3 linked regions of the Homo sapiens genome follow. The protein of the gene in region 2 purifies or fractionates together with the protein of the main gene of each other region. This does not show direct contact. Each region holds a gene or a part of one and is shown on either strand. Other genes may lie near its edges.

The links.
Region 1: the proteins of DNMT1 (region 2) and URI1 purify together in Homo sapiens (affinity purification with mass spectrometry, with the first as the bait; one large-scale study listed by BioGRID). This does not show direct contact.
Region 3: the proteins of DNMT1 (region 2) and HDLBP purify together in Homo sapiens (affinity purification with mass spectrometry; 2 studies listed by BioGRID). This does not show direct contact.

What each region holds. Positions count from the first base shown.
Region 1 is NC_000019.10:30,011,623-30,015,272, reverse strand, and holds part of URI1 (unconventional prefoldin RPB5 interactor 1), read right to left. Parts: intron 2,989-3,650; coding exon 2,742-2,988; intron 387-2,741; coding exon 204-386; 3' UTR 1-203. UniProt on the Homo sapiens protein: Involved in gene transcription regulation. Acts as a transcriptional repressor in concert with the corepressor UXT to regulate androgen receptor (AR) transcription.
Region 2 is NC_000019.10:10,135,938-10,139,587, forward strand, and holds part of DNMT1 (DNA (cytosine-5)-methyltransferase 1), read right to left. Parts: intron 2,669-3,650; coding exon 2,502-2,668; intron 2,073-2,501; coding exon 1,895-2,072; intron 1,344-1,894; coding exon 1,148-1,343; coding exon of another isoform or gene 1,139-1,147; intron 351-1,138; coding exon 184-350; intron 1-183. UniProt on the Homo sapiens protein: Methylates CpG residues. Preferentially methylates hemimethylated DNA. Associates with DNA replication sites in S phase maintaining the methylation pattern in the newly synthesized strand, that is essential for epigenetic inheritance.
Region 3 is NC_000002.12:241,239,084-241,242,733, forward strand, and holds part of HDLBP (vigilin), read right to left. Parts: intron 3,596-3,650; coding exon 3,377-3,595; intron 1,226-3,376; exon of another isoform or gene 1,040-1,225; coding exon 818-1,039; exon of another isoform or gene 738-817; coding exon 519-737; exon of another isoform or gene 419-518; coding exon of another isoform or gene 308-418; intron 1-307. UniProt on the Homo sapiens protein: Appears to play a role in cell sterol metabolism. It may function to protect cells from over-accumulation of cholesterol.

The sequences.
Region 1 (3,650 bases), about 20 Mb from region 2:
ATTCACAAAACAAGCTGATATTAAAGTATTCAGACAGTTACCTTGATTTTTTTCAAATACCACGGGTAAGGGTAAAAGAACTTGTTGCCAAAGTAACTCAGGATACCTTATTTCAAACTACATGTAACCTATTTTGCTATAGATACTCTAAACAAATGAACAACTAGGTTTTAGGATGTAAATTCCCATTTCCTAGACAGGGCCTAGTCTTTCTGTTGCAATCTGGCAGCTTTAAACTTTGAAACCCTCTTTCCAGTTTCTTCAGATGCTTCCAACAGAACTTCCTTTCGTTCTGGAATAGTGGGTAGTGCGGGATGAGCAATGGCTGGGGGTGGTGTTAAGGAAGGTGATACAAATTCTTTTTCTATAACAGTTCCAGAAAAAGCCTAGAAAACAAAAGTCAGGTTATGGTAATAAAATGCAAATAAGACACCCACAAAATCTTCCCATTCACTCATTTGGCAATTCTTTTCATTAAAAGTAAATTCACGAGATTTTTGGCTAGACAACACTACTACACCAAAATACTAATTGTTCAGAGAAACCAACACCATTAAGTTTTAATTTCACCACCAAACAGAAGTAATTTTTACAGTATACATGCAAGAAAACAAAATGTAAAATGTAAATTTTATCTGGGAAAAAAAAGAAATGGATAAATAAAAGGTCTTCAAACTTTCATACATTCCATTCATGTCCAGCCCATGCTGTGAAAAATAATGTATTAAAATAAAAATGCTATTAGGGTGTCAAACTCTGACTTTTGTACATCAGTTGATGAATGAGCTATCCTATGATGGCCTTGCTGCCTGCTAGCCAATAGCTTAGTTTCACCAGTACTGACATTTCTAACTGATATCTCTTTGGTGGTGTTTATGCAATTATTTAAATATTTTACTGCATATTGCCTCAATTTTAAAAGATCAGTGGAAGTTGAAAAATAAAAGTGCTGATACTAGTAGGAATAAGTACAGGTTTCAAAATTTTAATATAATTAACTCAATGACAGAAATCAGAAGTTCCACAAAAAAAGAAATGACTCAATTTCACCTGGATGTTTGCTGCATTTAATCTGGTCAACTATATGTTCAACTGGAACAGAATTAAAGAATGTGCATAAATTGCTGGAAATATCTGTACATGTCGTTTTATACAAAAATAGGTAAGACACAAGGAGTTAATTTTTTTTTTTTTTTTAAGATTGCTGGTATTTAGAACCTCCATCCTTCCCTCTACAAATGAAAATTTGACAGGTGAACTTTAATGTACATTTTGTTCTCCTCTGTCTACCAAGTGCTCAAAATTAGTTAAAACAACGTAACACCTAAATAATTTAAAAAGCCACCTTCTTCTACCTTGCCCCACCACTGAAACAAAAACAAAGAAAGCCATCTCTCTCCTACATTATTTTTGGAGTTCAACTGGTAAAAGCAGCTTAAAGCTTACTTTCCTAAAAACTCCACTTTATCACGATGAGCATAGAGCCTTCTTCTCCTTCTTCTATTTAAAATGCCTTTGAAAAAGAGGTATTTTAGCATTTAAAAAGATACTGAAAAGGATATCTTCCAAAGTACTTACCATAATCATGAACTATTTCTTTGATGTTAAAAAATGTATAGCAACTACTATTAAACATTTCCATACAAAATGCAAAGCTACTAAGGGTGAAATAAAAAATAGGTTCCACACTCTAGCTGTACCATGATACACTAAGTCCTTACAAAAAACTAATTTTCAAACATTTATCAGCAATTACCTGATAACATCCATTACCTGTTTTCTAACAGTATGGAAGACTATCAAATAAGGTAAGATACTTTCCAGGTCACCTAAGATCATTATACTAAGAAGAGGGGAAGAAAACATTCTAGTCATATGTACTGTCCCTAAATGCTACCAATCTCCATCCCCAATTACCATTTAATACACTGAGTATAATACCATTTAGTAAAAGCAATGGAATTTTTAGATAAGGTTATATATATGCATGTATCTTATTGTATATACAAATGTGTACACTGGTTTGATCCAGGCATGGGTTCCCCAATCTTCCTAAATACTTTTTAAATTGAAAACTTCAAATACGCACCAAAACACAAGAATGAAGAAATCAATAGCCTTATATTTCACAGACATCCTTATTTGGGGATTTCCTAACCTCCCCTGCACCACCACCAAAAACTGTAAGAAGTGTGGTGGGTGAAAGTGTATTGAGTGTGCACTATTTTTTCTATGGACAGGGTCTACAGCTTTCATCAGATTATAAAACAATTCCATAATCCCCCAAGAGTTAAGTTTCACTGGTACAAGGTAAAATATTAGACTTTAGGTAATTATCTGCTATGCATGCATTATTTTTCTTTAACTTAGCCAAGGTATTTAAAAGAGAATAATGTAATCTGCTCCTTACACTATCAGAAAATGACCTACTGGTAATTTATTTAAAATAAACTGCGAAATAATTTCCTAGCTACAAATGTAATACATAATGCCAAGTAAGACATTTTAAATTTCCCATTTTGCTGAAATAGAACGTTAAGACAAGTAATGTGTTTATCAAAAAATAAACTATTTGATTATCACAATATTTGTACTGTTTGTGACTATTAATTTTTTATTAATTAGTACCAAGAAAGTATAAAACCTAGAATTAATTTAATCTTATGACTTTTCAGATTAAATAGCTAAAACTGGTCAAAGATACTATATGAAATAAAGAATTAAAAGATACACACACACACCTCAGGTGTTACTGATAAGGGCAAAAGTTTCTTTTGATTTTCTTGTGGTTCCTCTTCCAAAATGCTCTCACTGGTGTCACTGCAAGTGGCTTCTTCGCAGCTGATACTCCTCAAAACTCCCCGCCTATCATCAAATTCAGCAGCACTGCTTTCACTAGTGTCGCTACACACACTATTCTCTCTACTTCGAGACTTCAGGATGGATTTGCGAGGGACATATTCTCCATTCACAACATCAACAAAGGCTCTGTGATATTCAAAACACATATGCATTCACTATACGTAACTCATAAAACTGAGAACAACTTTTTGAAAATTTCCTTGAATCTATTCTAGAAATTAATCTGAAAATTTTTATTACAATCTTATATCTAAAATAGTCACAATCACAATAATTTTATAGCCTCAAATGGTATCTTCATACTATTTTGAAAGCTATTTCTCTGGCCTAATAATAAAACACAGCATGTTATTTATTTATTTTATTATACTTTAAGTTCTAGGGTACATGTGCACAACGTGCAGGTTTGTTACATATGTATACATGTGCCATGTTGGTGTGCTGCACCCATTAACTCATCATTTACATTAGGTGTATCTCCTAATGCTATCCTTCCCCCCTCCCCCCACCCCATGACAGACCCCGGTGTGTGGTGTTCCCCACCCTGTGTCCAAGTGTTCTCATTGTTCAATTCCCACCTATGAGTGAGAACAAAAACACAGCATGTTATTTTTAAGCATGTCCTAGGTGGCAATAGCATGGTTTGCCAAAATTCTACATAAAGTTTTAGACCCACGTATACATTTAGCAATTTTCACTGATTTATAAATAAGGGTCATAAAAACAGTAGGTATTTTCAAGTGATAGTTTTCTCAACAAACAATTCCAAAAAAAAGGAAAAAAAAAAA
Region 2 (3,650 bases):
AGCATACGGCCATGGCCTTGGCCTATGAGCTTGTCCCGTGGACGTGGAGGGGCAGGAGGCAGAGGCCAGGTGCCTGGGGTCCTGGGGTGCTGTCCCCCACTTGGCTAAACCCACACTTCCACCTAGTTAGGCCGCCAAGTACAGGGCCTGACCCAGGCCCTCGGATGCCCCCTCCCCACCTACCTGCTTGCCCATGGGCTCGGGGTTGGTGACGGTTGTGCTGAAGAAGCCGTCCCACTCGAGCCTTCCATAGAGGCCAGCCCAGTGGTTGTGCCGGTTCCCGGTGTGGGGCAGGCACCAGGGGATGAGGGTGTTGAACTGCCTGGCTGCGGGGTCGCAGGCTTTGCCGGCTGGAAGACAGGACAGTGATGAGGCTGCAGTTGTGGGATGGGGTATAGGCTTGGGACAGTGGCTCTTAGAGCTTTGGGAGGCAGAGATGGCACCTCCTGTGCAAGGGGCCCCCTGGGGTGGAGCAGCCAACAATCCTCGTTCTCTGGGCACTGTTTTTATTATTAGTATTATATGTCTCGCTCTGTTGCCCAGGCTGGAGTGCAATGGCATGATCTTGGCTCACTGCAACCTCTGCCTATGGGGTTCAAGCGATTCTCCTGCCTCAGCCTCCCAAATAGCTGGGATTATAGGCGTGCGACACCACGCCCGGCTAATTTTTGTAGTTTTAATAGAGATGGGGTTTCACCATGTTGGGCAGGCTGATCTCGAGCTCCTGATCTCAAGTGATCTGCCTGCCTTGGCCTCCCAAAGTGCTGGGATTACAGAGGTGAGCCATCGTGCCTGACCTGCTTTTATTATTTATTTATTGTTTTTTTTTTTTCTTTTTAGAGACAGGGTCTCACTCTGTCTCCCAGGCTGGAGTGCAATGGCACAATCACAGCTCACTGTAGCCTCCTCAACCTCCCAGGCTCAAGTGATCCTCCCGCCTTGGTTTCCCAAAGTGCTGGGATTATAGGTGTGGGCCATGAACCCAGCCTGCTTTTACTACTCAACATGGTCAGCAGCTACCTTCTCTGGGACACCCAGGCTTGGTGTGTCTGTGCCCTGCCCTGGCCTCCAGGTTCACAGGCCAAAGGCCCAGGGCTCTGCCTTCCTTCCCCTCAGCCCACCGGGAACCACAACTTACAGGACCCACCTTCCACGCAGGAGCAGACCCCACGGAGGGCCCCAGAGCTGCTGCGGCCGTTCTTCCTGTCATGGTGGGTATACCGCAGCTTCCTGGCCATGGTGCCGTCTGAGAGCCGCACCTCGATGTTGGGCAGATCGCGCCAGTCTGACCCTGGGGCCAAGGGGATGTGCCGCATGCGGGCAGCCACCAATGCACTCATGTCCTGAAAGAGTGTGGGGGGCCCAGCTGTCACCTCATGTGAGCAGCATCCGAGCATCCATGGTGGGCTGGGAGCTGGGAACACCATGGTGACCAGGAAGCCCCCTGGGGCTCACGCCCATCGGGAAAGAGACAGTCAGGGATATCGCACTTGGCTCGAGGCCACGGCAGGGACCTGAGGCAGCGCAGGTGTAGGAGAGCGTGGGAATCTAAGCTGAGCCTTTAGGGTGGGGGAAGGGGAGTGGTGCCAGGGGATGGTGAAAGGGCTGGTCTTGGCATCCTGGGAAAACATGCGGGGAGAGGCAGCAAGGGGGAAGGCAGTGGTGGGTGGGCAGTGGCTTGACACCATTCCAGACCAAGTCCAGGACTGCGGGAGCTCTGACACTTCCCATGACCATGCAAGAGAGACCAGGGGTCACACAAAGGCTGAGGACTCGGGAGGAGGAGCCTGGGATCAGATTCCATGTCTCCCCTGAGTCTTGGGCAGGCTGACTGTTCCCACGAGGCTGCTGGGCTGGGCCTCGAGGAGGAGCCGCTCTGTCAGGGTGCCATTACCTTACAGATGTGGTCCCTGAGGATGGGCTGGTACTGTGCGCCCCGGAGCTGCCTCTGGAACCAGGACTGAGGCTCCCCGTTGTAGGAGATCTCCAGTGCCGAGGCTCCATTCCGCACCTCCGGCAGGTCGGACATCGTGTCTCGCACCGTGATGGTCCGGAAAGGACCCGAGCTCAACCTGCAACAGAGGAGGAGGTCAACACCTCTGGAGATGCACGCAGCAGCTGTCCCCTCATCACAGGTGCCACCCCCTGCCTGCTCAGATGGCCTTCTCCCGAGATCACAGCACTGCCCGAGGTCACATGGGTGGCAGTGTGCCTGGATGCCATCTGGAAGGGGGGATGGGGCTATGGCGTGGGCTTTGTGGATGACCACAGCCAAGCATGCGGCTGGCCGCTCTGCACATGCTATCTACTAGGGAAGCAGATGATGCAGGGTCAGAACTGGAGACCACAGGTGGCAGAGTGCCATGTGGCAGAGCACCGTGTGGCAGGGCAGATGCTGTACCATCCTCTCCTCCCCAAGCCTCACCAGGGAGTACTCACGGGCCCCATGAGCTACTGAGGCCTGCTCGGCAGTGTGTGGAGGAGCGACGGGGGCCACCTACCTGGTTATGTTGCTCACAAACTTCTTGTCATCCACCACCACGCTCAGCTGGCAGGCCCGGGGAGCAAACACGTGCAGTGGCTCCGGGAACAGAGGGAGCTTCTCTCCAGGGGCCGCGGCCAGGATGATGGCCCGCCTCCTAGTCTGGGCCACGCCGTACTGACCGGCCTGTGGGGGAGAAGGACGGACAACCCCACCGTCAGTGGGACACTCCCAACTGGACTGGCCAGACCCAGGCCCAGGGTCAGCAGCCTGAGTCGGGAGTGGCTGGCCAATGCGGAGTGCACTTGCAGAAATCCCCAGTTACCTCAGCAGGCGTGCTCCTGGTCAGAGGAGTTTGGAGCAGATAAAGAACAAAAGCAGCTGAGCCCAGGGGACAGCCACTGGGGAAGGTGGGAGCAAACCCTGCGGGGAAGTCCGGCCAGCTCTGAAAGCACTGCAAGGGCCCCAAGGTCTTAGCACTCGGGGAGAACACTGGAGACCAGGAGCCCTGTCGCTTCCCTGATGGCTGTGGTCACAAGGACAGAGAACGTGGCTGCAACAAGTCTTGTCTGGTGAGCCTGAGTCGCCCTGAGGCTGAGCTAGGGGACCGGGTAGCCAAGTGCTTGCCCACTTAGGCAGACATCCTGTGCTAGCATCTGGATAGCTGTTTCATTTTTAATTATGCCCTCAATTGCTGAGCTGATACAGAGAGGATGGGGGATGCTTTTCAGATAAGGCCTGGGCCCCACAGACTATGTCCATCCCTGTCCCTGCAGACACAGCCACCTGGAGTGCAACCCTCGGCCATCTGTGGGGGTTTGTGTGCGCAGTTACCCAGAGCAAAACTGTCTTTTAAACCAATCGAACAGCTGCCGCCTACACATGGCTCTGCGCACCTCACTTCCCCTCCCGCTCTGTGCAGACTCAGCCATTCCACAGTGCTCCATGGTGGGCTGCTCACCCTTCCCCATCGAGGGAAAGGAGCCAGGAGCTGCATGGCGAGAAGCCCATTGTAGCCAGCCCTCCCAGGCATGTTCGAGAACACAGCTCAAGAGACACTAGCGGTGGACTTGCTGGGGGCCGGCTGAGCACGCATCTCCCCTGACTCCGCCAGTGGGACAGAGCACCATGCCAGCCTCTGCTGCCTGGATGGCAGGCCTATGCCATT
Region 3 (3,650 bases), on a different chromosome or scaffold from region 2:
GGCATCAGACTTGATTATTAGGGAAAGGGAATCCAAGGCCCTGGCAGGGGAGTGGCCTGGAGGGGACACTCTCTAAAGACTGCTTCTAAAGACCACGTCTTCTCATGACTTCCCATGGATTCACGTGGATGCCCTCAAATCGATTTTCTTTCCTTCACAGAGGGGAGAAGAGAGCTGACCCCTTAGACTGCATTTTCATTTTTCCTGATCCCTTATACAGAATGCATTTTCTTTCTTTCTCTTGCTTTCTTTCCTCTCTCTCTCTCCCCTCTCCTCTTCTCCTTCTCTCTCTCTTTTTTTTTTTAAGTGCTTCTCGCAGGCAGAATTCTCACCAACTATCAGGAAGGAGGCCAGACAGGCTGAGGAAAGAAGAGCGAGCACCAGAAAGCCCCTTCTGAAGCCTTCCAGGGCTGTATGAGGGAGTCACCTCCCTACAGGGTGGAGCGAACACTCATACACGGCTTCGGTGAGTGGCCACTGGGGGGTGAGAACCCCTCCCCGAGCACCCAAGTGCCTACCAGGTCCTCAATGATCTCCTGAATGCGTTTCTTGGCTGCCTCCACACAGTCCTTGGCGCCCTTGAGGGTGACTTTGTCGCTCTGTGTGCCAGAGCGTGGGAAGCTGACCATCACCCCGCCATACTCTTCAGCAATCTCCCGCAAGACCTGGCCTCTGCGGATGACGAAGTGGCGGTGGTGCTTGGGGTCCACCAGCATGGAGTCTTCCACCACATTATCCTGCAGTGTTAAGAAGAGATGGAAGATAAGCCACCCCATCACGGCCCCAGCAGAGTCGGCCGCCGAGGCCCGCTCCCTACCAGGTTTTGGATCAAGGCCTCCAGCTCCTTCTGTGCCTCTCGGACGGCGTCCTCCTTTCCAATGATGGTGATCAGGTCCTGGTCCTTGTCCTCAGCCGCAGGGAAGATGACACGTGCTCCAGTGCTGTCGCGCACCTTGCGAATTTTGCCGCCCCCCTTGCCGATGAGGAATTTGTGGTATTCTGGCTTGGCGCGGATGTCAACAGTGAAACTCTTGGTTTGCTGCAGAAACCAATCCCACTGTGTTAGCCTGACACCACGTGCCTGGACCACAGTGAGGAAGACAAGAGGGTCTGTAGGACAGCAAGCTCGGGCTCCCCTTACATTGTCACCAGTGTCCTGATGTTGCACCAATACCCCCAAAATGGGGCTAGCACACCTCACTGAATAAACAGATGAATACCCAGACTGCACACCTACTTCTCTTCCACAACAACCAGATGCTGGTGGGATGAACACACAGGCTTAGAACCCTGGTCCTGCCACTTACAAGCACTGACCAAACTTCTCCAAGCCATTTTTGATCTGCACAGGGGGAGGTGGGAGCAACGCGCCGGACGATATGTTGGCGGAGTGCACGTCCTGGGGAGCGTGGGGTGTGCCCAGCAGAGCAGGAAGCAAGCTGCCCAAGAGGTGTGCACCATGCTCCCACTCTTCTACCTGCTTCCAGACCAAGCACACACAAATCTGGGCCAGGCTCCCTTTCTTCCCACGAGTGCTACAGATCAGCCTCCACAAAACCAGCCACTCCCCAGGCTCAAGCTCAAGCTCAGAGGGACACAAGCCAACCAAGGCTACAGTTAGAGACCGGTCCTCAGAGGCCTCGTGTAGTGCGACGCCCTTGTGTGGCAGTAAGAAAACGAGGGTCCTGGAAAGGCCCCGGACACTGCTTGTGGACACCAGTGCTTCTGGCAGACCCACGCAGGGGCCCCGAGAAGGGCGCTGCTCCACGGGACTCAGGTCCACACGGGGAGCTCTTGCCTTTCTCCGGACCCAAGATCTGGCCCGCAAGCAAAAATACCAAAGAAAAACATGCTAGCACAAAAATATTAAATAACAACTTTGCTACCTTTTAAGTGCAGGTTTCACCAAATACCACCTAGAGACTCTGCTACTTTTCAAAGACATCCACAAATAGCAGCATTAGTCAAACATTAGGCAATCAATTAGGCAAATGCAATCTAGCAATATGGCCAAAGACAACCTACCAAACCAAGCAGGGATTACCCCAGAAACGCAAGGCTGGTTAAACACAAAGACAAAAACATCAATCTAATAACAACAACAAAAAAGACAAGAAATACAAGGCTCCAGATTAGAGAGAAATGTAACTGTCCACAGACCACGTGATTGTGACATATAAAATAAGGATCCACAAAACAGTGGGCCGGGCGCAGTGGCTCACGCCTGTAATCCCAGCACTTTGGGAGGCCGAGGCGGGCGGATCACGAGGTCAGGAGATCGAGACCATCCTAGCTAACACTGTGAAACCCCATCTCTACTAAAAATACAAAAAATTAGCTGGGTGAGGTGTCGGGCGCCTGTGGTCCCAGCTACTCGGGAGGCTGAGGCAGGAGAATGGCGTGAACCCAGGAGGCGGAGCTTGCAGTGAGGCGAGATTGCGCCACTACACTCCAGCCTGGGCGACAGAGCAAGACTCCGTCTCAAAAAAAAAAAAAAAAAAAAAAAAAAAAAAAAAAAAATCCACAAAACAGTGACTGGCGCTAATATACATGAGCTTTATTTAGCAGCCTCGTGAAGGTCAACATACAAAAACCACAGGCACTTCCATGTGCTAACAACTGGAAATGGAAAAAAAGTGCCATTTACAATAGCACTAAAAGAGTAACAGTAGTTAGATCTGTTAAGTCGAACATAAAAATGTGCTAAAAATTATAAAACACCAATAAAGAATCACAGACCTAAAAAAAATGGAGAAATGCCTGCAAAAGTCAAAACTGCTGAGCTGTCAATCCTCGCCAGTCTCATCTTCAAATTTCACACAATCCCAATCAAAACGTGAAAGTGCTTTTTTCCTACAAATTGACAGGCTGATCAGCAAGGGGTGTAGAACAGCCAAAGTTAAGAGGGCTCACACTACTGATTTCCAGACTTCCCATAAACCTGGTGTCACCAGAAGAGCCCGGAAACATACCCACAGATGGGTTTTGACACAAGGACAACAGCAATTCCATGGGCAATCTTTAGGGGTGATGGAAAATGAATTTTGATGATTGTGGTCACATGACTGCATGTTACTTAAAACTCAACTATACCTGAAGAATGGCCAATTTTACTGTAAATCATATTTAAAAAACAAAAGCACCCCAAAACTAATAAGCCAAAGACCAACTTTTATATATTGCATATGTGAGCGTTTGGACCTGGAAAGGCCCTCCAGTAACAGCAAAAACAAAGACGCATAAACAGTACATTATAGAGCTGTTTTCTGACCCGCCACAAAGGAAGGGCATTCAGGGGTTTCCACAGTGAGAAGCGAGAACACTGTACTGAGGACCAGGCTTCCTGCCAAGAGTCACGCTCCCTCCCCATGCTCACCTTCTCCTCCGCCAGATGCAGGAGCTGCTTCTTGGCCTTCTCCACATCCGAGGAAGGGCCCCTGATAACAACGGTGTCGCTTCCTGAACCTTCCACGGGAAAGTGAATGTGGACCCCGCCGCACTCCTCCATGATGGAGCGGATCAGACGGCCCTTGGTGCCAATGAGGGAGTTGTGCAGCTTGGCAGGGATGGAGACCTCTACCTCGGCTATGTTGGCCTGAAACCAAACACAGGGCAGGAGGAGGAAGTCACATTTTTGTGGCAAAAAGGGC